Linked DNA regions of Homo sapiens: region 1 is linked to region 2. The links come from fine-mapping of genetic effects on gene expression. A gene starts in region 2. The other region holds a variant in brackets. All regions are shown on one strand. Distances are between the middles of the regions.

Evidence for each region. PIP is the estimated chance that this variant, and not a neighbour inherited with it, causes the effect.
Region 1: its variant is fine-mapped to the expression of TMOD3 in monocytes after LPS (Quach 2016, PIP 0.95).

What each region holds. Positions count from the first base shown.
Region 1 is chr15:51,867,493-51,879,257 of GRCh38, forward strand. TMOD3 (tropomodulin 3) reads left to right here. Exons shown (of 10, transcript NM_014547.5): 3 at 1,725-1,881. Among named protein-coding and RNA genes, the nearest start is that of TMOD3, 44 kb to the left of the region's middle. The variant G/GT (reference allele first, on the strand shown) is at 5,108.
Region 2 is chr15:51,823,565-51,835,329 of GRCh38, forward strand. TMOD3 (tropomodulin 3) reads left to right here and starts at 6,089. Exons shown (of 10, transcript NM_014547.5): 1 at 6,089-6,272. RefSeq lists silencers at 5,994-6,148, 6,369-6,648.

The DNA of each region.
Region 1 (11,765 bases), 44 kb after region 2:
ATTACATAAAGGGTAACACAGAAGTGAATTTTATGAAAATTATTATGTGTCTCAACAAATGACCACAGTTGAAGTGCTGTATTTCCTAGTTACAAATTGAATATTTTCTATTACTATTGCCCATATAAGATTACCCTTTATAATGAAAAATTGTCTTATACCACCCATGAAATTCAGCGTCACTGCCAATATTGGGAGGTTTTGCAAAAGAGAGCTGGCCCTTTTGTGTGATTTCTCTGGCTGCCTCCCATTTTCAAAGCAAAGATATACCCAGAAATATGAGACAAGGCAGTATCACCTCTTTGGCTTTTGACAAGTGAAAGGACGGTACTCACTTTGTCTAGTCAGCCCTTGTGTTTACTGGGCTTAGTGAAAATTAAGGGACTACAGGAGACAACTTTAATCCATCACCTTCCACTGCACCTCCCTCATCTCTAAGTCAGTCCATGCGCTCAAAAAGGCTGTACCCGTGTGGAAACCCAGGAACATAGCTCTTGCTGTGAGTATGTCAGGGGTCCCTTGGGGCATGTGAAACAATGATAGTGATTGTAGCAAGTACATCCTAGTGGTCATGTATATATGTACGCATACACACACAAGTGGAACATCTCACGTTGTGTTTAAACTGAAGTAAACATTAATCTGATATCCTACTGTATGGTATATATGTTGTAATCATGAAGAAGTCTGTACAATGAAATGGAAGTCATGAAGGAATATAATGTACAGAGTCATTTAAAACTCTTTTGTAATAGAATTATTCTCTGTACATATATATACACTGAGCAGTTATTAAGCATTAATAAAACTTTTTAAAAAAAACGTTTTAAGTTCAGGGATACCTGTGCAGGTTTCATTACGTAGGTAAACTTGTGTCATGGGGGTTTGTTGTACAGATTATTTCATCACTAATACCTGTTAGTTATTTTTCCTGATCCTCTACCTCCTCCCACCCTCCACCCTCCTCTATGCTCCAATATGTGTGCTTTATATGTCCTTGTGTTCTCATCACTTAGCTCTATATGTGTGCTCTATATGTCCGTGTGTTCTCATCATTGACTCCCACTTATGTAAGTAAGAAGATGTGGTATGTGGTTAATAAAACTTTTTTATTAGTATCCCAGAACACTTAAAAACTAAAGATTGTTTTCTGCTAGTAGAATCCTCTCTGAAGAAAATGTTCTATTAGAAAACGTATGCTGGGCGCGGTGGCTCACACCTGTAATCCCAACACTTTGGGCAGCCGAGGAGGGCAGATCATCTGAAGTCAGGAATTCTAGACTAGTCTGGCCAACATGGCAAAACCCCATCTCTACCCAAAACGCAAAAATTAGCTGGGCGTGGTGGCAGGCGCCTGTAATCCCAGCTACTTGGGAGTCTGAGGCATGATAATCACTTGAACCCAGGAGGCAGAGGTTGCAGTGAGCTGAGATCATGCCACTGCACTCCAGCTTTGGGGATAGAAGGAGACTGTCTCCAAAAAGAAAAGAAACTGTACTAATGTATGTGCCTATTTTAATAATAATGTAAGTGAATTCTACCTAATAAAAAAGAAGTTTAATGTTTGGAGCAATTGTACATTGCTGTCCTAAAATCCTGCAATGAAGTGTTTAGTGCCTGTATCACATTCCAGTCTGTAATTCTTTTTTATATGGGTAATCTTCGGAAGCATATAGCATTAGCATTCTTATTGGTCATATTGGCTGATTCATTCTCTCTGGCAGAATGCCCTTCTGCCTGCAGGGTTCCGGCAGAAGAACCAGACATCAAAGTCCACCACAGGGCCATTTGATAGAGAGCATCTCCTTTCATATCTGGAGAAAGAAGCATTGGAGCATAAAGACAGGGAAGACTATGTGCCCTACACTGGAGAAAAAAAAGGTAAGCCCCAGAATTTTAAAGTCATTATGTGGTAACACTTGATTTTTCTTTTTATAGGTGGGTGTGGAGAAAATCATATTTTTAGAGGTACATCATTGGTAGCCTTAAATATATGATACTGTTGACTTAGACATTTATTGGTTTAGATACTTTATTTACATTTTTCATCAACTTGGTCAATAAGTTTCTTCTTAATGATGTTAGTGAGGTTTTATTACACAATGATTTTGAATAACATTCTTTAATTCTCTACTATAACAGATCTAAAAGTATATTGAAGGAAACTTAAAATTCAGTGGTAGATTACAGAGTACAAATGATGTTAAGGCATCTATTCTAACTGCATTCTTTAAAGTGGAATGCCATAAAACAATTCATGCCATATTTTCAAAGACCCTTTTAAAAAGCTATTCTATACCCATCATTATTAATTCATGGTTATGATTGCTAATGCTTCATAATCAGTAGTTTTAGGAAATTTTTCTAGTCCAAGTCTCCCCCATTTAAGTGTTTGAGCTTATGTATTCTCAGTGGAGCCTGAGTACGGCTGTGGTTGTTTTTTTGTTTGTTTGTTTGTTTGTTTGAGATGGAGTCTTGCTCTGTTGCCCAGGCCGGAGTGCAATGGTGCACCCTCGCCTCACTGCAACCTCCGCCTCCCGGGTTTAAGCGATTCTCCTGTCTCAGCCTCCTTAGTAGCTGGGATTACAGGTGCACACCAGCACGTCTGGCTAATTTTTGTATTTTTAGTAGAGATGGGGTTTCACAGTGTTGGCCAGGCTGGTCTCGAACTCCTGACCTCAAGTGATCCACCCACCTAGGCCTCCTAAAGTGCTGGGATTACAGGCATGAGCCACTGCACCCAGCCACAGCTGTGTTTTTAAAAGTTCTATATATAATAATACTTAAATGAAACAGGATAAGTTTTTCAGCTTTCCAAACAGGTCAGAATACAGGTTGGCCTAAAAAGCCAAATTCTACGTTCACTCTTACTTGGAATACTGTGTATAGAATACTGGGGAATGGTGGCAGCAGTAGCAGAGCTGAAGATCAGCTCTTGCAGGCACCATTTTTATGTCTGAATTCATATTAGTCCAGGCAGGAAGAATGGGACTTGGGCTTTTTATTTGAGAAAGAGGCCCTTCTCAATCATTTTGGCCAGAACTGTGTCACATGGCTACCCCTTAGCTGCAAGGGAAGCAAGAAAGTTCATTTTAGCACTCCAGCTTCTATAGTAGAGGAAGGCTTGTGAATGGCTATTGAGTAGGTAAGCCGTAAGCTCTGCACCTGACTTTTCTAAAATTATCCATCACCCCAGCCCCTGTGCTTTTTCTTTAGAGTCCTCTTCCTCTTCATCTCTTGTTAAGGATCACTATCTTTGTTATTTAAGTTAGTCAGGGTTCTCCAGAGAGACAGAACCAACAGGATGTGAGGGGAGAGAAAAGTTTATTTTAAGGAGGCTTTTTAAATTCAAAATCTAGCAGCCTGGAGACCCAGGGAAGATTTACTATTCTTGTCCAAAGGCAGTCTAGTGGCAGAATTTCTTCCTACTTTGGGGAGATAAATCTTTGTTCTTTTAAGGCCTTCAACTGATTAAATGAGGCCCACCCACATTATGGAGGTTAATTGGCTTTACTTAGAGTCTGCTGATTTAAATTTTAATCTCATCCAAAAAAAAAGCAAAAAACAAAAAACCTTCATGAAAACGTTTAGAACAATGTTTGAGAAAATAGCTGGGCACCACAGCCCAGCCAAATTGACACATAAAACTAACCATCACGCTACTGTTACAGGTGGGAATGTCATGTCCCTCAGGTGTTTGGGGCCAGAAAAAGAGTTCAAAACCAATGCAGAGTTTTGAAGTGTGGAGAATCATAAAGACAGGCAGAGGCATCTCTTCCTTTTTATTTGTCAAAGAAAACTACTGGTTATATTTTCTCTGTGCAGCCATACGTATGTCAGTGTTTATGGCTTTAATCCTGCTTAAATAGAAGAACATAATTTTATGAGAAAAAATACTGGTTGATCACCTTCTGTTATTCTGCGTGTTTCAGGTGGACCCTGGGGGTATAATTTGGAAAGGAATGGAGGTAGAAACAAAGCGAGAGATGTGAGAAAAAGAGATGTCAGAAAAAAACTATGGAATTTGAGGATAAGAAGGAGAAAAAATAAGAGACCTGAAAGAAAGCTGCATTTGTCCCAGGCTAACCCCGGAAGCTTCCTAATATGCCCTTGTTTCATAATCTCCAGTTACCTAGGAAAATATCTTGGAGGATTAGAGGAAATAGGAAAGAAAGCAGAGAAGAATTACGGAAAATAAGAAAATACAAGAGGGGGAAAAGGATAGAGGTGAGGAATATGGGTGACATAGGAAAAAGTGCTGTATCCTCAACTATGGTAGAATATCTTTGTCCTCCTATGTATCTTTTAAAATTTTTACTTCTTACTTTAGGTTTTAGATGGGTAAGAATAAATGGAAGTAGTTGAACAAGTAATTTTACATTCACAATCAGTGGTTTCTCTTTATAATACATTCGGTATTTTTACTGCCTCTTTTAGCTACATATGTCTATTAAATATTGTTTATGGGCAGCTCTGATGCAGTGATTAAGATGATAGCTTTTTTTTAATAATGAACTTTTTGTTACTCAAAGAAAATGCACAGGTCATCTGTATGTAGCTCAGTGAATTATAAAATAAACACACCATGTAATTACCATTCAGGTAACGATAACATCAGCAGCCGGACGCGGTAGCTCAACGCCTGTAATCCCAGCATTTTGGGAGGCCGAGGCAGGCGGATCTCTTGAGGTCAGGAGCTCGAGACCAGCCTGGCCAACATGGTGAAACCCCGTCTCTACTAAAAATACAAAATAGCTGGGCATGGTGGCATGCACCTGTAATCCTAGCTACTCAGGAGGCTGAGGTAGGGGAATCCCTTGAACTCAGGAGGCGGAGATTGCAGTGAGCCGAGGTTGCTCTACTGTACTCCAGCCTGGGCGACAGAGTCGAGACCCTGTCTCAAAAAAAAAAAGGTAACATCAGCACCCACTGAAGGCCCTATCATGCTCCTTCCCAGTCACTTTTCCCTTTCTTGTGAAAGGTAATTACCAACATAGTGTCTAATACAATAGTTAGTTCTGTCTGTTTTGAACTTTATATCGATGGAAACATACATTCCGGGCATCTGGCATGCCTATGTCATATATTTTTTGTGAGGACCAAATTT[G/GT]TTTTTTTTTTTTTTGGTTTGGTTTTTAGAGATGAGGACTCACTCTCTTGTTGCCCAGGCTGGAATGCAGTGGCACTGCAACCTGGGACTCCTGGGCTCAAACGATTCTTCCACCTTAGCCTCTAGAGTAGCTAGGACTACAGGCACATGCCCCCACACCCACCTGAGGACCAGATTTATTAATGGGTACACTGAAATCACTGTAAAGGATCATATGGGAGATGATTACCGAACAAGAGATTTTCATTCTCTGTCATGGAGGAGCGGTCCAGAACAACCATGGGATGAATTTGTGAGTTTCATTAATCTATCTGATGGAAGCACATACTATCAGATGTGGTAGAATCAAGCCTTATAAGCCATGTCACAGTACCATGGACCTGAAGGAGGGCAAATTCCTCTTCAACAATCAAGCAACTTTGGCTGTAAAGCTCTGCTTTGAAATATAGCAAAAAGCCACCTCTAATGTTCTGAAATCCACCCTAGACTCTCATCTTTAAAGCAGTTAGCCTTAGTTATCCTTAGTCACGAATATGCCTTCCTCTCTCTTCATCTCATCTCCAGGATCCTGATCACGTTCCAGAAGGTCCTCAGAGTAATTCATCTATGTCTTATTAGAATACTTCCCATCAACCTAAATGTTAATCTCTGTAGCTCCAAAAATCCAGAAGCTTGTTTTTTAAAGATAGCTCTCCTATGACTCTGCCCTGAACACCTGGGTTGAGTCTCAGATTTTTTACTTAATAGCTTATTTTAGTGGAGATAGACTTTCAGATTGAGGATGCTTTCCCAGGCAATAGAGGTTTTCCTGGCTCTTCATAAAAGTTTGCAAACCTACCTCTATTGAGAAACAAAGGCATTTTACTTTTTTGGTACATTTAGATTAGTTAGAATCCATAAGATGTTCTCTTGGTCTCTAAATGATTTTTTCATTCAAAGATGACTGGCCTCAGGGTGCAGTACCTAATGGCAATATTAGCCTTCTGACCAGGGAATGTTGTAGCAGTGTCATTCAGTTCCTTGAACTCTTTCCAAATTATATGCCAAAATCACATAGTGAGCTCTCATCGTAAATTAATTATTTTAAAGGATCTATCAGATGACTGCTTAATTTTTTTTTTTTTTGGAGATGGAATCTCACTCTGTTACCCAGGCCGGAGTGCAGTGGCCTGCCACCACACCTGGCTAATTTTTGTATTTTTAGTAGAGACGGGGTTTCACCATGTTGGTCAGGCTGGTCTCGAACTCCTGACCTCAGGTGATCTGTCTGCCTTGGCCTCCCAAAGTGCTGGGATTACAGGTGGAGCCACTGCACCTGGCCGACTGCTTAATTTTTTCAAAAGCAAAAACTTGGGAACCACTAAAAGGATTACTTACCTAGTCATTAGACTATTTTCTTATATTCTGAGACTGACAATTAATTATACTTCTTATTTTTTCACTTAAAGGCAGACTCTGTTTCTGGAGCCAGAATTACACATAACTGGCCAGGACAGGAGGGAATCCTCATAAAACCAAAAATTTCACATTTAGTTTTTCCTTTTGACCAATATAAAAGTAAATATTCATGCCAAATTTTATTTTCTAGATTGCTAAAAAATGTTTTTTAGAAACCTGATAGACTGAGGACACTTAAGAGTTATTATATGTAAATCCATTAATAATTTCACCTCATGATTTGTGAAATGATTATATGTTTTACAGAATTGAAAGCATATGTCAATATATGAAAAGAAGAAAGTAATCCTAATTAAGTGAAGCTCAAGGCCTTATGTCTTACATGCATTTAGGGGAGTATTTTGTCCTATACTGGTGAATATTTTACTTTTTACCTCTTCCTCCTTAAAATTTTGCAGAATGTATAACTGAGACATAGGCCAGCACAGGAGTGAAAGAGAGTATTCATCCAGCTTGTTCTCGTTTGGAGAATGGTGAAAATTCTCAGTGCTGATTATTAGTTCCCATCATATTTTTACATAGCATGCATATTCTGTCTCAAAGATAGATAAGGCATAGAACCTTGTCATGAATTTATCACTTGAAGAAATACTGTGTCCCAGTCTTCAGTATTTTTTACTACCTGTCATTTTGTTTTGTTTTGCTGGGGACTCCTCCTCTCTATTGCTGGTATCATGCTCCGCCCTTACCTAGACTAAGAATTTTTTTTCCCTGTGTTATTTCACGGATGGACCAGAGCCATGGCTGCACCTTATATCCTATACAGAGATGTGCATTCTGATTCTGTTTGAGCTGCTGACTCACCCGGTATGGGCTCCTCCCTGCCTTGCACCGCACTCCTTTTCTTCCTGCTGGGCCTTGGGGTACAGCCATTTATGCTTTTTGGTTGTTTTCTCTTTTCCTATCCTGAGAATGGAATGCCCTTTTGTTCTTTCCCAAGAATTCCACATGCCCCTCCCTGCTTTTTTAAAGGTAAATTTAACCCAGTTGCCTTAAACTAAGGACTTCCCATATGCTGTCCAAGTTATTTATTCACAGTTATGTTAGCTTTCCAGAAAACCTCCTCTTTCTCACCTTTCTGAGTATGTGATTTCTTTGGAGGAAAGACAGACCTGATCCCTTAGTAAACCAGAAAGATCATGATTATAAACCTGCCTACATCAAGAGGATTACATAACCACCACTGGGCAATTGGTTTCCGCTAAGTCCAAAGGTAAAAACTGGCTCTTATTTTTGTAATCATATTGTATGAACCCTAAATGTCCCTTGTAGACCTCTGAAAAGTGGTCTTCCCAGGCACTGAAGCTGATATTTGAAATGGGCTATTTACATTAGTCATGCAGATGCTGGCATCTCCTTTTCAGACCGGTCATGCAATATCATTTGAATGATTCACTGTTAACTCCCTTGGGGTGAGGAGTTAGCCAGATGGACGGCTTGTTACTCATGTTAACCGGTTTCATGGGGAACATTTCCTGGATAACTACACCCACTCTGGATAGTTCCTTTCCTCCAGCATTTCTCCATATGATTTACATACCGTAAAGTACTGCCTTTTTTTTTTTTTTTTTTTCCTGAGACAGAGTCTTGCTCTGTCGCCCAGGCTGGAGTGCAGTGGCGCGATCTCGGTTCACTGCAAGTTCCACCTCCTGGGTTCATGCCATTCACCTGCCTCAGCCTCCCAAGTAACTGGGACTACAGGCAGCCGCCACCATGCCCAGCTAATTTTTTTTTGTATTTTTAGTAGAGACAGGGTTTCACTGTGTTAGCCAGGATGTTCGCCATCTCCTGACCTCGTGATCCACCCACCTTGGCCTCCCAAAGTGCTGGGATTACAGGTGTGAGCCACCGTGCCCGGCCTAAAGTACTGCTTTTAGTTGTTTCAGAATCTTGTACTCTGAGGCTTTGTTGCTACTTGTTTTTAGGATTGTTATGTCCCCTTGATGAATTGTCCCTTTTGTTATAATGAAATGACCTTTATCTCTGGTAATATTCTTTGCTATAAAACCTACTTTGCCTGATGTTAATAGAGCCTATCTTTCTTTATTTTGATTAGATGTCATGGTATATCTTTTCTATTTGTCCTGTCTGTTCTTTGATGTTGTTGTTGTTGTTGTTGTTGTTTGTAAGAGACAGGGTCTTGCTCTGTTGTCCAGACTGGAGAGCGGTGGCATGATCACAGCTCACTGCAGCCTCAAACTCTTGGGCTCAGGTGATTCTTCTGCCTCACCCTCCTAAGTAGTTGAGACTACAGGCATGTGCTACCACACCTGGCTAATTTTTAAAATTCTTTTTAGAGGCGGGTCTTGCTATGTTGTTCTCAAATGCTTGGCCTCAAGCAATCCTTCCACCCACCTCAGCCCCCTGAGTACCTGGGATTACAGGTGTGAGACAGTGCACCCAGCGCTTTTTTTTTTTTTTTGAGATGGAGTCTCGCTCTGTTTCCCAGGCTGGAGTGCAGTGGTGTGATCTCGGCTCACTGCAGGCTCCACCCCCTGGGTTCATGCCATTCTCCTGCCTCAGCCTCCCGAGTAGCTGGGACTACAGGCACCTGCCACCTCGCCCGGCTAATTTTTTGTATTTTTAGTAGAGACGGGGTTTCACCGTGTTAGCCAGGATGGTCTCAATCTCCTGACCTCGTGATCCACCTGCCTCAGCCTCCCAAAGTGCTGGGATTACAGGCATGAGCCACCGCACCCGGCCCCAGCGCTTTTTTTAAAAAAAAAAATCTTCCGTCCAGGCATGATGGCTCACACCTGTAATTGCGGCACTGCGGGAGGATCACTTGAGGTCAGGAGTTGCAGACCAGCTTGGGCAACACAGTGAGACCGTGCCTCTACTAAAAATGAAAAAAAGTTAGCTGGATGCGGTGGTGTGTGCCTGTAGTTCCAGTTACTCCGGAGGCTGAGGTGGGAGGATGGCTTGAGCCTACGAGTTCATTGCTGCAGTGATCCATGCTCATGCCACTGCACTCCACCCTTGGCATCAGAGCGAGACTCTGTCTCAAAAAAAATAAAGAAAAAGTCTTCTATGCCTCTACTTCACTTTTTGAACATATGTAATATAATTATAGTAATTTTTAATGTCCTTACTTGCCAATTTTATCATCTATCATTGTTAAGTCAATTTTGATAGACCGATTTTTTTTCTTCTTCTGGATCAAATTTTCCTGTTTCTTTGCATGTTTGTAATTGTTTATTGGGTATCAAACATATTAACTTTCCAGTGCTGGATGTATTGATATACCTATAAATATTCTTGAGTTTCATTCTGGGGTGCAGTTAAGTTACTTGGAAACAGTTTGATTCTTTGGAGTCTTGCTTTTAAGATTTGTTAGGTGGGCCAGGCACGGTGGCTCACGCCTGTAATCCCAACATTTTGGGAGGCCGAGGCAGGTGGATCACGAGGTCAGCAGTTCGATACCAGCCTGACCAACATGGTGAAACCCCATCTCTACTAAAAATACAAAAAAATTAGCTGGGTGTGGTGGCGGGCGCCTGTAATCCCAGCTACTAGGGAGGCTGAGACAGGAGAATCTCTTGAAACCGGAAGACGGAGGTTGCAGTGAGCCGAGATTGCACCACTGCACTCTAGCCTGGGCAACGAGAGCAAAACTCTGTCTTAAAAAAAAAAAAAAAAGATGTGTTAGGTGGGACTAGAGCAGTGTTCAGTCTAGGGCTAATTATTTCCCCAATACTGAGGCAAGACCCTTCTGAGTTCCCTACCCAATTGTGAGCCTTGTGAATTGTGAGCTTTTCCAGTCTGGCTGGTGGGAACAGGTTCTATTCCCAGCTCTGCATGAACATGGGCATTATTACCTCTAAGCTTTCAGAAGTTTTTTTTTTTCCCTTGGCTCAAGGTAGTTCCTCACATACATGTACCAGTCGGTGCTATGCTGAACACTCAGTGTGACCCTCTGCACAACTCCTGGGCTCCCTCTCTGTGCAGTTCCCTCCTTTCTGGTTCCCTATCCTTCAAACACTGGCTGCCTTGGTTTTTCTGGACCTCAGCTGTGTCTGCAGCTCAGCATTCACCAGGCTCTGCCTGAATTTCTGCTCCCTGATCTGCAGCCTGGAACCTTTCTCCAGACAATAAGCTAGGTAATCACAGGGCTCACCTCTGTTTTTCCCATATCATAGGGATCACTGTCCTTTGTTGCCTGATGGCCAGTGTCTTGAAAACTGTTGTTTCTGGCCAGGTATGGTAACTCATGCCTGTAATCCAAGCCCTTTGGGAGGCTGAGGCAGGAGGATTGCTTGAGGCCAAAGAGTTCAAGACCAACCTGGCCAACATAACAAGAACCATCTCTTTAAAATATATGTGTGTGTGTGTGTGTGTGTGTGTGTGTGTAAAACTTGTTTCATATATTTTGTCCATTTTAATTGTTTCAGGCATGTGGGTAAATTCTGTCCTTATTACCCCATCTTGACATAGGAACCTCCAGAATAGGATTCAGTTGCTGTTCTATTTCCCTGTTAAAGTATTAACTCCCAAAAGTGAAGGATCTCTTGTTTTGTTTTCCTTATGGTGTCTTTCTAGTTCATTGTCTAGTATATACAAACTCACTAAACATTTGTTAACTAAGCATTTATTGGTGACCATGTTGCAGCATCAAGCAGGTGTTGTGTGTATCATTGGATCAAAACAAAAATGTCTTTCTAGGCTGTGTCCCCTCATTCTTTAGTTTGATTGGTTTGAGGTTTTTGTGCTGCTTGTCAAACAACATATCACAAAGCCTCTTGGAGATTATAGTGGAGTAGTGTCCTTCAATCTTTTCTGGAACAAGGCAGTTTATAAACAAACAGTAAAGTTAGCTAGGGCCTTTCAACTCTGTAGGAATGAAGTAACCAAGAGCCACCTCTGTTTCTTGTTATTATATTTTTTATATACTCAGCAAGGGTGGGAGCTATGACTAAGATAATTCTTAACATTTGTTGCAGCTGTAACTTGGTATCAGAGCAAAAGAGATAAGGACTAGTAAAGAAAGGTCCTGGCAATGGAATTGTTAACATGGATCACAGTATTTCTTACTGATTTTGTGACAATAACAAGGATCTTGGCACAGGATATTTCTTTTTTCTTGGAACACACATGAGTTTGGATAAGTGCCATACATTTAAATTACTGTTATATGAATTCTTATCTCAATGTCTTCCATTTCCTTAGCTGCTGTTTTGTAGTTGCAGAAACATTGCTAAAC
Region 2 (11,765 bases):
ATCACTACAAATATCAAGAAGGAATCCATTGGCTAGATAACCTAGAAAAAACAATACATTGTTTTCAAGCCAATAAATGTTTATAAAAAATTCAAATAATACAAGGAGGCCAGGCGCGGTGGCTCACACCTGTAATCCCAGCACTTTGGGAGGCCGAGGTTGGAGGATCACTTGAGGTCAGGAGTTTAAGATCAGCCTGGCCAACATGGCAAAACCCTGTCTCTACTAAAAATACAAAAATAAGTCAGGTGTGGTGGTGCACGTCTGTAGTCCCAGCTACTCAGGAGGCTGAGGCAGGAGAATCGCTTGAACCCAGGAGGTGGAGGTTGCAGTGAGCCAAGATCGTGCCATTGCACTCCAGCCTGGGCGACAGAGTGAGACTCTGTCTCAAAAACAAATAATAATAATAAATAAAAATAAATAAAGACAAGGAAAAGTAAGCAGAAGTTAAATCATATCACAACTCTGGTCTTGGTAGAAGGGTTTGGGGCATCTAGCATTTATCATTTAAAGACCTGAATTTAATTCTTATTTAATTCCATTTATGACAGGGATCATATTCATTCACTCACCTGAGCTGAAATTTGGCTTTCTGCAGTGACTGTAGGAGAGTCTAACAATGGACAGCACTGGGAATTTATTGCTTCTATAGTAAATGTTAAACTGAACAGTTTTAGCACTAACATTTTTAATATTATTAAAATAGTATTAAAATTTGGGGATAATATTTTAGGTTTATGTGCATATCCCAGAAGTTTATTCTTTAATAGTGATGTTTGTCATCAACTTTGGCTTCAGCTGAAGAGTGACTTATTTTTTGGCCCTTTTGGCATTTGGCTGAAATGTGTATTCAGTGCACTTCTAATGGAGGCATAATGGGGTATGAAAATATGGGAAAGGCAAAATTAATTCCAGCTGATGGCATTAGTGAAGGTTGAGTGGGGAACAGACATTTGAGATGGACAATGAAACATGAGGAGGCTTCTAACAGGCAGAGATGGGTTATAGAAAAAGGGGCACTTGAGGCCAAAAAGTGTGCTTGAATCTTTCCTGTAAAACTGTATGCACACAGGCGTGGTGGCTCATGCCTGTAATCCCAGCACTTTGGGAGGTCAAGGAAGGCAGATCACCTGAGGTCACGAGTTTGAGACCAGCCTGGCCAACATGGTGAAACCCCGTCTCTACTAAAAATACAAAAATTAGCCAGGCATGGTTGTGCACACCTGGAATCCCAGCTACTTGGGAGGCTGAGGCAGGAGAATGGTGTGAACCCGGGAGGTGGAGCTTGCAGTGAGCCAAGATCACGCCACTGCACTCCAGCCTGGGTGACAGAGAGAGACTCCATCTCAAAAAAAAAAAAAAAAAAAAAACCGGTATGTACCCAGCCATGATGTTTGTCTTCTGTGATTGCTACCTCCCACTGCTTCCATAGGATTCCTACCTCCAAGCTTCCATAATGAAATCCTTCCCTTTTCATTTCAAATTTTTGTCTTTAGTTTTTCTCAGCTCTCCTATAAATACACGTTTTTACATACACACAAAATATGCTTACATATACCAAAGTAACTATTTCCTAAAGGAACTCTTTGATAACAAGAAAAGTGCTGCTGTTATTAATTAGCATACGATGATTCAGTGTGACATGCTTTCTGAGTTATTCTGGCTGGAAGTTTAGAGATAACACTAATTAGAGCTTGTAATATTAACACATAAAGTAGAGTTGAAGTGTCATTTTATCAATCACTTTCACTCTAACCAAACCCTGAACACTAATGGGAACCATACTCTGTCCCTTGTTCAAATATTTTACCTGAAGGCCTCAGATTTGTTCTCTGTAGTGTGTTAGCCTGTTGAACTTCAACAGTTTTCCATTACTTGAAGTGGGTTAAATGCAGACGGTTGGGGGTGCCATACCACTTCTAGTTCAGATCATCATGTTTCTTTGATTAGGCACTATAGTAGTCAGCTTTTGCTAAGTAAGTCTATAGTAACAAACGAACCTAAACCTCAGTTTCCCCTTCGCTCACATTATATATTATGTCAGCTAGTGGCTGAGGCTCTGATCCATGTAATTTCTTATTCTAGAACCCAGGCAGAAGGACCAGCCTCTATTCAGAACTTGTCTCTCTTGGTGGAGGGAAAGAGCAGGCACACTAGTAGAGAAAGGCAGTGACTCTTAAAGCTTCCACCCAGAACTGTCGGATTGTCCCTTCCACTTATATTTTATTGACCAAAGCAAGATTCATGTTTCTAAACTTTGTGATTACAATATGACATTTAACCGAAGAGAGGAGGAAAATCCCATCATGGGATCATAGCCAAGCCTGGAATGCCTGCGGGGCAGCACTGGAAGTCACATAGTAGTGGGCAAGCCTGTCTATTCCTCTAAAGGAGAGCAAATATGTGGGAACAATATTTCAATCTACCACAGGTATTTAGTGGACTTACCTTTTCACTTATTTATGTAAATCTAATTTCCATGTTTTTCCTGTTTGTTTTCCTCCAAGAATTATGTTTCCAACTCTAAGGGAATAGTGGCAACCCTAAATTATAGCCTTTTTAAAAGAGAGCTCTGTCTCTATTTCAGGACTTTCACAGGATCTTATTCTCCTGTGTAGTCAACCCTCTTGCAGCTGGTGTTTACATCCAAATCAGGTCACTGGCTGGCATTTACAGGTGAACCTTCTGGGTCTGTGTCCCAAGAGGAGAGTAGGAGAGAGAGGGAAGAACCCAACATTCATTTATTTACAAATATTTATTGAATACTTTCTGTGTGCAGGCAGTATTGTAGATGCTAGGGATGGAGGAGTAAACAAAGCAAAGCTTGTTGAGCTTCCACTAAGGAAACAAGCAATATGAAGCTATGTGGTAAAAGTGCTATGACGACAAGTAAAGAAAGGAGAGAATGGCAGGGTAAGGTGGTAAGAGGAAGACTTTCAGAGGTAACATGTGAGCAGAACCTTCATTAAAATGAGGGCATGAGCTAGAAGCATCTGGGAGGAAAATCATTCTCCTGCACAGCATAAAGACTCTGAGATGGGGAGAAACTTGGCAGGATTAAGAAACCTCAGGGAGGCCAGTATGACTAGAGCAGTATCAGAGAGAATATGTGGTAGGAAACAAAACAATCATATACAGATTTGTAGAGGTGTTAATTATGGATTTTATTCTAAATGTGATGGAAGCCATGAACGGTTTGGAGCAAGATGGTGATATGATCTGATTTGTTTTTAAAAGATCATTCTGGGCTGGGAGTGGTAGCTCACGCGTGTAATCCCAGCACTTTGGGAGACCAAAGTGGGCAGATCACCTGAGGTCAGGAGTTCAAGACCAGCCTAGTCAACATGGCGAAACCCCGTCTCTACTAAAAAAATACAAAAATTAGCTGGGTGTGGTGGGGTGGGGGGCCTGTAATCTCAGCTACTAGGGAGGCTGAGGCAGGCAGAATTGCTTGAACCCCGGAGGCAGAGGTTGCAGTGAGCAGAGATCACGCCACTGCACTCCAGCCTGGGCGACAGACAGAGACTCCGTCTCAAAAAAAAAAAAGTCATTCTGGCTGCTAATATAGCGAATGTGTTATAGCAAAGGAGTGGAAGAAGTGAGGAAGGTTCTACCTCTTCAGTGCTATCCAATACTAAGGTATTACTCTTAACATCTCTGGCCCCATATGTGGTATTTAATGTACACGGATTTAAGAGATTCATGTTTATAAGCTTTGTGATAAAAATATGATAATGTATGCCTGAAGAAAGGAAAAAATCCACCATCAAACTGCATTATTTTAGAAAAAGGAACTAAAATAAGATGTATACATTCGTTAGGAAAAATTTGAAATGAATAGCGAAAATATATTTAATATATGCCTAACAGCCCATATTGGAAGGTGAGAGAGGAAAAGTGTAATAGATTAAGTCAGTCAGACACTGAATTAAAAAGTCTCTCTGACCAAAGCAAAAGAAGCCATATTGCAGAGGAAAGTCCTTCTTAAAATAAACCATATCAGCTGGGTATGGTGTTGCATGTCTATAATTTCAGTACTTTGGGAGGCCACGGTGGGAGGGTCCCTTGAGCCCAGGAGTTCAAGACCAGCCTGGGCAACATAGGGAGACCCTGTCTCTACAAAAAAAAAAAAATTAAAAAAATTAGTTGGGTGTGGTGGCATATGCTTGTAGTCCCAGCTGCTCAGGCTACTCAGGAGGCTGAGGTTGGAGGATTGCTTGAGCCCAGGAGGTCACGGCTGCAGCGAGCCATGATAGCACCACTTCACTACAGCCTGGGTGACAGAATGAGATTGTCTCAAAAAAAAAAAAATTGATGAGATTTAGGAGACACATCAGTCTGATCAGCAGTGGAAATCACATTAGAATTTGACTCAAGAGAACTGTGTCTCATCTCTGGATCTCCAATTACTGGCTCTGGGACCTTATACAAATTACTTAACTTTTCTGAGTCTTCATTTTCTTATCTATAGAAATGGAGGATACCAGTTTATTCTTTATAGAGTTTTGAGGACTAGATTAGTTTTGAGGATTAGATGAGATATTACAAATGAAGTGCTGGCCCAGTGGTTGGTATGTATTATAAGTATAAACATTCTTATGAACCTGAATTCTGTAGGAAATTGCTCTCAGAAAGCTGTTATCTCCAAGAGATTGACCCAAAGATGGTATAGAAAATAAAATGCAATGGCCACAAGATTGAGTGTTGACTGTCCTCTAAGTATTTGCAATTGAGAAGGGTTTTTTCCTGGCCAAGCACGGTGGCTCACGCCTGTAATCCCAGCACTTTGGGAGGCCAAGGTGGGCAGATCATGAGGTCAAGAGTTCAAGACCAGAATGGCCAACATGGTGAAAACCCATCTCTACTAGGACTACAAAAATTAGCTGGGTGTGGTGGCACGTGCCTGTAATCCCAGCTACTTGGGAGGCTGAGACAAGAGAATCACTTAAACCTGGGAGGCAGAGGTTGCAGTGAGCCGAGATCACACCACTGCACTTTAGCCTGGGCGGCAGAACAAGACTCTGTCTTGGAAAAAAAAAAAGAAGGGTTTTTTTCCCTTAAAAACCTAAACCATCAGTGATCTCCATTGCTGAAATTAGTGGGTGCCAGTTGCATGAAATTCCAGGATGTTTATCTAACCTAGGGTCCTCCCTCCTCTGAGGGGAAGAAGTAGATGCCAGGAGAGGTTTAAACCATGAAGTGGCTCGCACACTGGGTGTAGCTGGAATGTACCTCAAGCAGGCACGTCAGTCCACTTCTTTGGCTGCATTTTTGAAAGGTGTGTCAAAGTTTAGCATTATTCCTGGGGATGGTCTACTCCTGAAGAGCAGGCCAGGAAAATTCCCAGTAAGTGACTAAATGAATAAATGGAAAAATGTCGCAGTTCCCTCTCCTCAGAGCCTCGCACAAAAGGTAGCCATTACATAGGCCACTGTCAAACAGTCCTCTGAGAGATTCCCACACTCTTCCTCTTCCCTCTAGACTACCCATCTGCCCCAATCCCCCCCTTGAGCAGCCTATTCTGTTTTTTCTCCCACTACAGCAGCCAGCCCCACCGCCTGGTGTAGAGCTTGAAGATGGAAAGGGAAGATAGGATGGGCAGAAACTGCCCTGCAATAGCTACATCATCCCCGAAACGCATACCTAAGAAAACCACTAAGGTCACCACACCCTGGAGGTGACATTCGCATGATTTATGCCTCTCTTGGGCTTTAGATTTTATTCCTTTACTTTTCTATAACTCTGTCATGACCAGTTTAAAGGCCCCAATGTCATGTCCTCGCATTAACAACCAAGGCTACAATGCAAGCCCTGCCATGTGCGCTTCTTTACAAAAGGTCAAAGTAAAAAGGAAATCTATACCAAAGAGCCTCTAGATACTATTTCCAGCTTCGGGGAAGTCCATAGTAGGTACTTCCACGGGTAGAGAACATTATCTTAGACTGGGATAAGGGTTGGTATTCGCAGTCCCCTTCCTACGTTCTGCCCATTGTAAAGACCAGGGTCAGCGTTGAGCCTCGCCCTTCTTGCTAGAACTACAACTCCCAGGATGCCCCGCGGCACGGGAGTGCGCACGCGCGTCGGAGGCGAAGGAGGAACCCACCGCACCTACAGGGCGGTCGAGTGAGGGAGCTGCTGGCGGGTGGGTCTGGCAACTCTTTGGGAGGCCGACGCGGGCGGACCGGCGGGTGCTGGGAACCGAGCCTCGGCTTGCGGCCGGCAGTTTCCGTGGGTCTGTGAAGAGGTCGGCGGCCCCTGCGGGCGCCAGTCAGGTAAGCCCAGCCCGGTGCTTTCCAGGAAGTCCGTCTGCGGGCGCGGGTAGGGAGTCGCACCGGCCATGGTGGCTGAGGAGGGAGAGGTTGCTGCCCGCCGGCCGCCCGACTCCAGGCTCCTTCCCGACGGGTCCGTCTCGGGGAGCAGGGGTGCGCGGGGGCTGCTTCTGCGCGAACGGCCCGGGCGGGGGACGTGGGGCGCGCTGGGCGTCGCCCGCCGGTCTAGGCGCGCGAACCTGGCGTTCCCAGTGAATCACCCGCGGCCCGGGCGCCCGGGTTCGGGACCGGCCCCCTCCCCTCCCGCTGAGCCGCGGCCGAGCTGGCTCCCTGCACCCTACCCAGCGTCGCCGGGACGCGATCACACCGAGATGGCACCGAGCCTCCTTCAAAGGCTTCGGCTTGTTGAAAGTGGGGCGGCGGAGTGGGGGAGCCAAAACTTAGGGCACACCCTTTTTGTGATTGAAATGTGGCTGCCCTTGCATTCACCGGTTTGATCTGTCTGCTCTTAGAATTAAGTTCCTAGCTCCCAGGCAGCACAGCTGGATCCGGCTGGGAAGTTTGTGTGTTAGTTTGTTTTGAGGACGTGACTGTGTCGTTATATTTTTGCTTGCGGGGGATGGTGTGTTTCCTCCGCAAGCCTGCATTCTGATTACAAACAGAAATGGGAAACAGCCACAGTTTCTTTTTTTCTTTTTAATGTTTAGTTAAGAATCGCATTTCCAACTTGCCCTTGGCCTCTGTTAAAACCAAAAGTCATCTGGCAATGAACACTGCAGTAAAACTTACCCCAGGAGGCCATACTTCAACAGGAAATAAGCCTGTGGAGATTTAAGTTAGTTATGTGCAGCCTCCCTTGGTTTGTAACATTTTCATGCAGCTCATGTCTCCTCTCCTTTTCTGAGAAACCTTCAGATTAATTTTTTTGGCAGATTAAATTGATTAATTGGCCCGTCAAAAATATATTAGGCTTGGAAAAATAGCTTTGCCAAGTCTCATTTACTCTTGCTAGTTTCTTCTTCCTAGGCACCTTTTCACCTTTAAGAGTCAGCAATCATAATAGTTACAGTCCCCTTTCTTACACATTCCTACGAAAGGAACAAAACGAATTAAAATGTCCCAATATATTTTAATTCTTTGAGCTTTCTTTGCTTTTGCAACTCTCAGAAATTGTAGTTTGCTGATCTTTAAAATTAGGTTGTTGGACCAGATGACCCCCAAGATTATTCTGCCCCTAAATATCTCTCGTTTTTAAAAGTTCATTTATTTTGCTCATTCAGGAAACACTGGCGATATGCATTCCAAGTCCTATGATAGACATGAGAAAGAGCAAACATGAGTTCTTGAGAATGCTGTAGACCTACTGCTCAATTTTATTTAATCATATTTTTTATGATTAATTCCTAAATTTTGTGGTATATCCAATATGCCAACCTACATTGTAATTAATAACTTCATCTGAAATTAAATAGGTACAGGTCAAATCCCATTCAAAGATTTTTCGTGTCTTAATTACTGGCCCATTGAAACAAAACAGGTTTGGTACAACAGAAAGGCCCTGAATGGTGGAGGGCAGTCTTTTCAAACACTTTAGCATGCATAATTCATTCAGGATATTCTAGGTTTGAAGTAGAGTCCAAAGTCTGTATGTCTGATGGGTGATGCTGTCAGAGACCATACTTTGAATGTCAAGTGTGGGGAGGTAATTTTAGAGGTATTTTCAGGTGTTTTTAATAGCAATTTAAATACTGGTACTGATAACTGATATTAGATACATAATTGATGGCTTTTTCAACTCTCAGTTTTTTAAAATACTGTAGTCCTATGAACTCTAACAAGAACAATTGTCATCATAAGTTTTTCTCCTTCTTTCCTTTTCCTTTCTCTTTGCTAGTTTTTCTTTTTTCTCTTTGCTTTTTTTTTCTCTCCTCCTCTTCCTTCCTTAATTGTTTTCATTCACATTAATTTGGCAATTCATGAATTCAAGTATGTGTCTTGCCCCATTCTGTATTCTGTACAAAGCAATGTTTCAGGCTCCTGGTGAATATGTATAAGACATGAGGCCAGGGCCGGGCCTGGTGGCTCACACCTGTAATCCCAGCACTTTGGGAGGCCAAGGTAGGAGGATTGCTTGAACCCAGGTGTTTGAAATCAGCCTGGGCAACATAGCAAGACCCTGTCTCTACAAAATAAAATAGATTAGCCAGGTGTAGTGGTGATGCCTGTAGTCCTAGCTACTCAGGAGGCTGAGGCAGGAGGATTGCTTGAGCCCAGGAGTTTGAGGTTACAGTGAGAGACAATGATTGTGCCACTGCACTCCAGCCTGCGTGACAGAGTAAGACCCTGTCTCTCTAAAAAAAGAAAAAAAATTATATATATATATATATATATATATATATGAATGACATGGTTCCTGTCTAGGACCTTATTCTCTTTGGGATTAGGCAGATATACTTATGTATAGTCCACAGCACTTGTAAGAGCCACCTGTAGGGAATAAAAACGTGGTAGATATTCAGGAGAGATATTTTCCAGTTGCAGGAGTGGGGAACAACTAAAGTCAATATTTTTTTCCATTCACTGGTCATCTCTTTCCCCAGGCTATACTGTCTATACTGTTTGAATGTATGTGACATATCTACATAGAGTATAGTGGAATTCTGTAAATTTATTTTATTTGGAACCTGAGATGAGCCAGATACATGAACATAATTAGAACCGGATGTGGTGGCACGCTTCTGTGGTACCAGCCACTTGGGAGACTGAGGCAGGAGTACCACTTGAGCCCAAAAGTTCCAGGACAGCCTGGGCAACATAGCAAGACCCTGTCTCAAAAACTAAAACAAAAGAGAAAATCAATTATATCTGAGCAATATCACAGGGAGGATGAGAGGCTTTGCGGATAAAAGTATACCTGGATAGAGGGAGGGAGAAAGATAAAGAGGAGGATCCAGTAAACAGTAGAGGAAAAAAAGGCTTTTAGTAAGGTTTTCTGGTGTCAGTCTGATGTATACTGATATTTAGGCTGTGTTGTAGCTGGCAAACTACTCTTCACACTTTTCAGTTGCTCTTTAATATGCATGAGCTCTCTCGATTAGAGTAGATGAGGAGGGCATTATTCTCTAGGCCGTGTGGCTAAAGCGCTATCATCCCTTGGTCATTGATAGTCCTTGCTGACATTTGATTTACATGCAGTTTTATGTCAGATCCTTTAAAATCACAAATATATGGAGAGAAAAATGGTATAGACAATAGAATATTCTACTGGGCCTATAACTGGTCCATTAAGTGCTTATTTAAATTGTAAACAATCAAATTTAATTTGGTGTTTATAAAAAATTATGTATGTGAACATACATTCTGTTATCTATATGTGTCTGTAATCCATTAGCTTATTTACAATGATCAAAGAATAGAAGTGTGAATAAATCAGAATGGCACATGATTGAAAATGCTGTGTAACTGAAGATGCATTTGTGTAGTCTTGAATTTCATTTGAAACAAAATTGTTAGTCTGTATCTTGAAGCACATTGCTACTTTGTATTTTTATTGATGTATAATTAACATTCAATAAAATGCACATAATATCCAGTTCAAGGAGTTCTGACAATTGTATACACTGTAACTTCTACCAAAATCAGATAGAAAACATTTTTTTTAAGTCACCCTAGAAAGTTCCCTCACCCACCTTCCTCCAAAGGCAATCACTTCCTGACTCCATAGATTTCTGACACTACAGAGATTTTTTGACTGGTCTTGGACTTCACATAAATGGAATCATACAGCATGTGCTTTTTTTGTGTTTGGCTTCTTTCATGTAAGAAAGATTCATCTATGTTGTTGGCAAGTATCAGTGGTTTGTCCTTTTAAGTTGTTGAATAGTATTCCATTGTATGAATGTACCCCAATTTATATTTTCTCCTTGATGGATATTTGGAATAAGATTGTTATGAACATACTTTTACAAGTTTCTTGATAAATACCTAGGAGCAGAGTTACTGAGTCATAGGGTATGTGTATGTTTAACTTTATTAAAAATCTGCCAAACAGTTCTCCAAAGTGGTTTATACTGAGTTCTACTTGCTCCGTATTTTTAGTGTTGCCAATGTTTAGTATTGTCAGCCTTTTCAATTTTAGTCACACTACAGGATGTATGGTTGTACCTCATTATGGTTTTAATTTACATTTTTCTGATGATTAAGAATGTTGAGTGCTTTATCATATGTTAATTGGCTATGCAGTATCTTTTTTTGTGAATTGTTTGTTCAAGTCTTACCTAGTCTTTCATTGGGTCATTCATCTTTTTATTGTTTGTAGGAGCTCTTTATATATTCAAGGTACAAGTTCTTTGTCACATATAGAGATAGATGTGTTGACAGTTTTTTTTTATACAGTCTGTCCCTTGTCTACTTTCTCAATGATATTGTGATGAGCAGAAATTTTTAATTTTTATAAAGTCTGTTTTATCAATTTTTTGTATTATGGCTAGTGTTTTTTGTCCTGACCAATAAATTTTTACCAGTGCCCAGGATTGCAAAGAAAGCTTTTTCTTCTAGAAACTTTATTTTTCTAAGTTTTTCATTTGAGTCTGTGATTGATCTCAAAGTAATTATTATTGTGTTATGATATAAGATAGGAGTTTGGGTTCATTTTCCACCTATATAGATATCTAGTTGTTCCAGCAACATAGGTTTAAGAAAAACTTCCCTTTCTCGGCCAGGCACAGTGGCTCACACCTGTAATCCCAGCGCTTTGGGAGACCAAGGCAGGCAGATCATTTGAGCCCAGGAGTTTGAGACCAGTCTGGGCAACATGACAAAACCACATTTCTACTAAAAATACAAAAATTAGCCGGAAGTACTGGCATGCACCTATAATCCCAGCTACTTGGGGGGCTGAGGCAGGAGGATCATCTGAGGGAGGTGGAGGCTACAGTGAGTTGTTATCATGCCACTGCACTCCAGCCTGAGGGCCAGAGTAAGACCCTGTCTCAAGACAAAACAGAACACATCTCTTTTTTGTTTGTTTTTCTCCATTAGATTGACTTGGCATCTTAGCGTGTCAGCTGAGCTACTTTGCATTTTAGTTGTGCTTATATTGTCAGTTTCTTAAGCACGGACCCTGACCTTAAAAATTAAATGTTTATGCTCCTCTTCCAGATTGGGACTTGACTGAGATTGATCCAGGGCTAGTTACCATGTATTTCCTGATGGAAGAATGTTAAGTATGAATTTGAATTTTAAATGGCTTTTCTGTGGGTCGAGTTAATGGAGACAACCTCATTTTAGAAGCAATTGCATCTTCCTTATAAAATAGGCAGATGTTTAGAATGAAGGAGATGTAAGCAAGGAAAGATCACCTAGGACTCCAACATAGCAAGCTATAGGGAGCTTAATATTTCTTGTTTATTGGCTTGATCTAAATAGATGCAATTATATATAAGCCATGTGTTTTAGTTTCCATCTTTTTCTGTTTTGTTTTGTTTTGAGACAAGG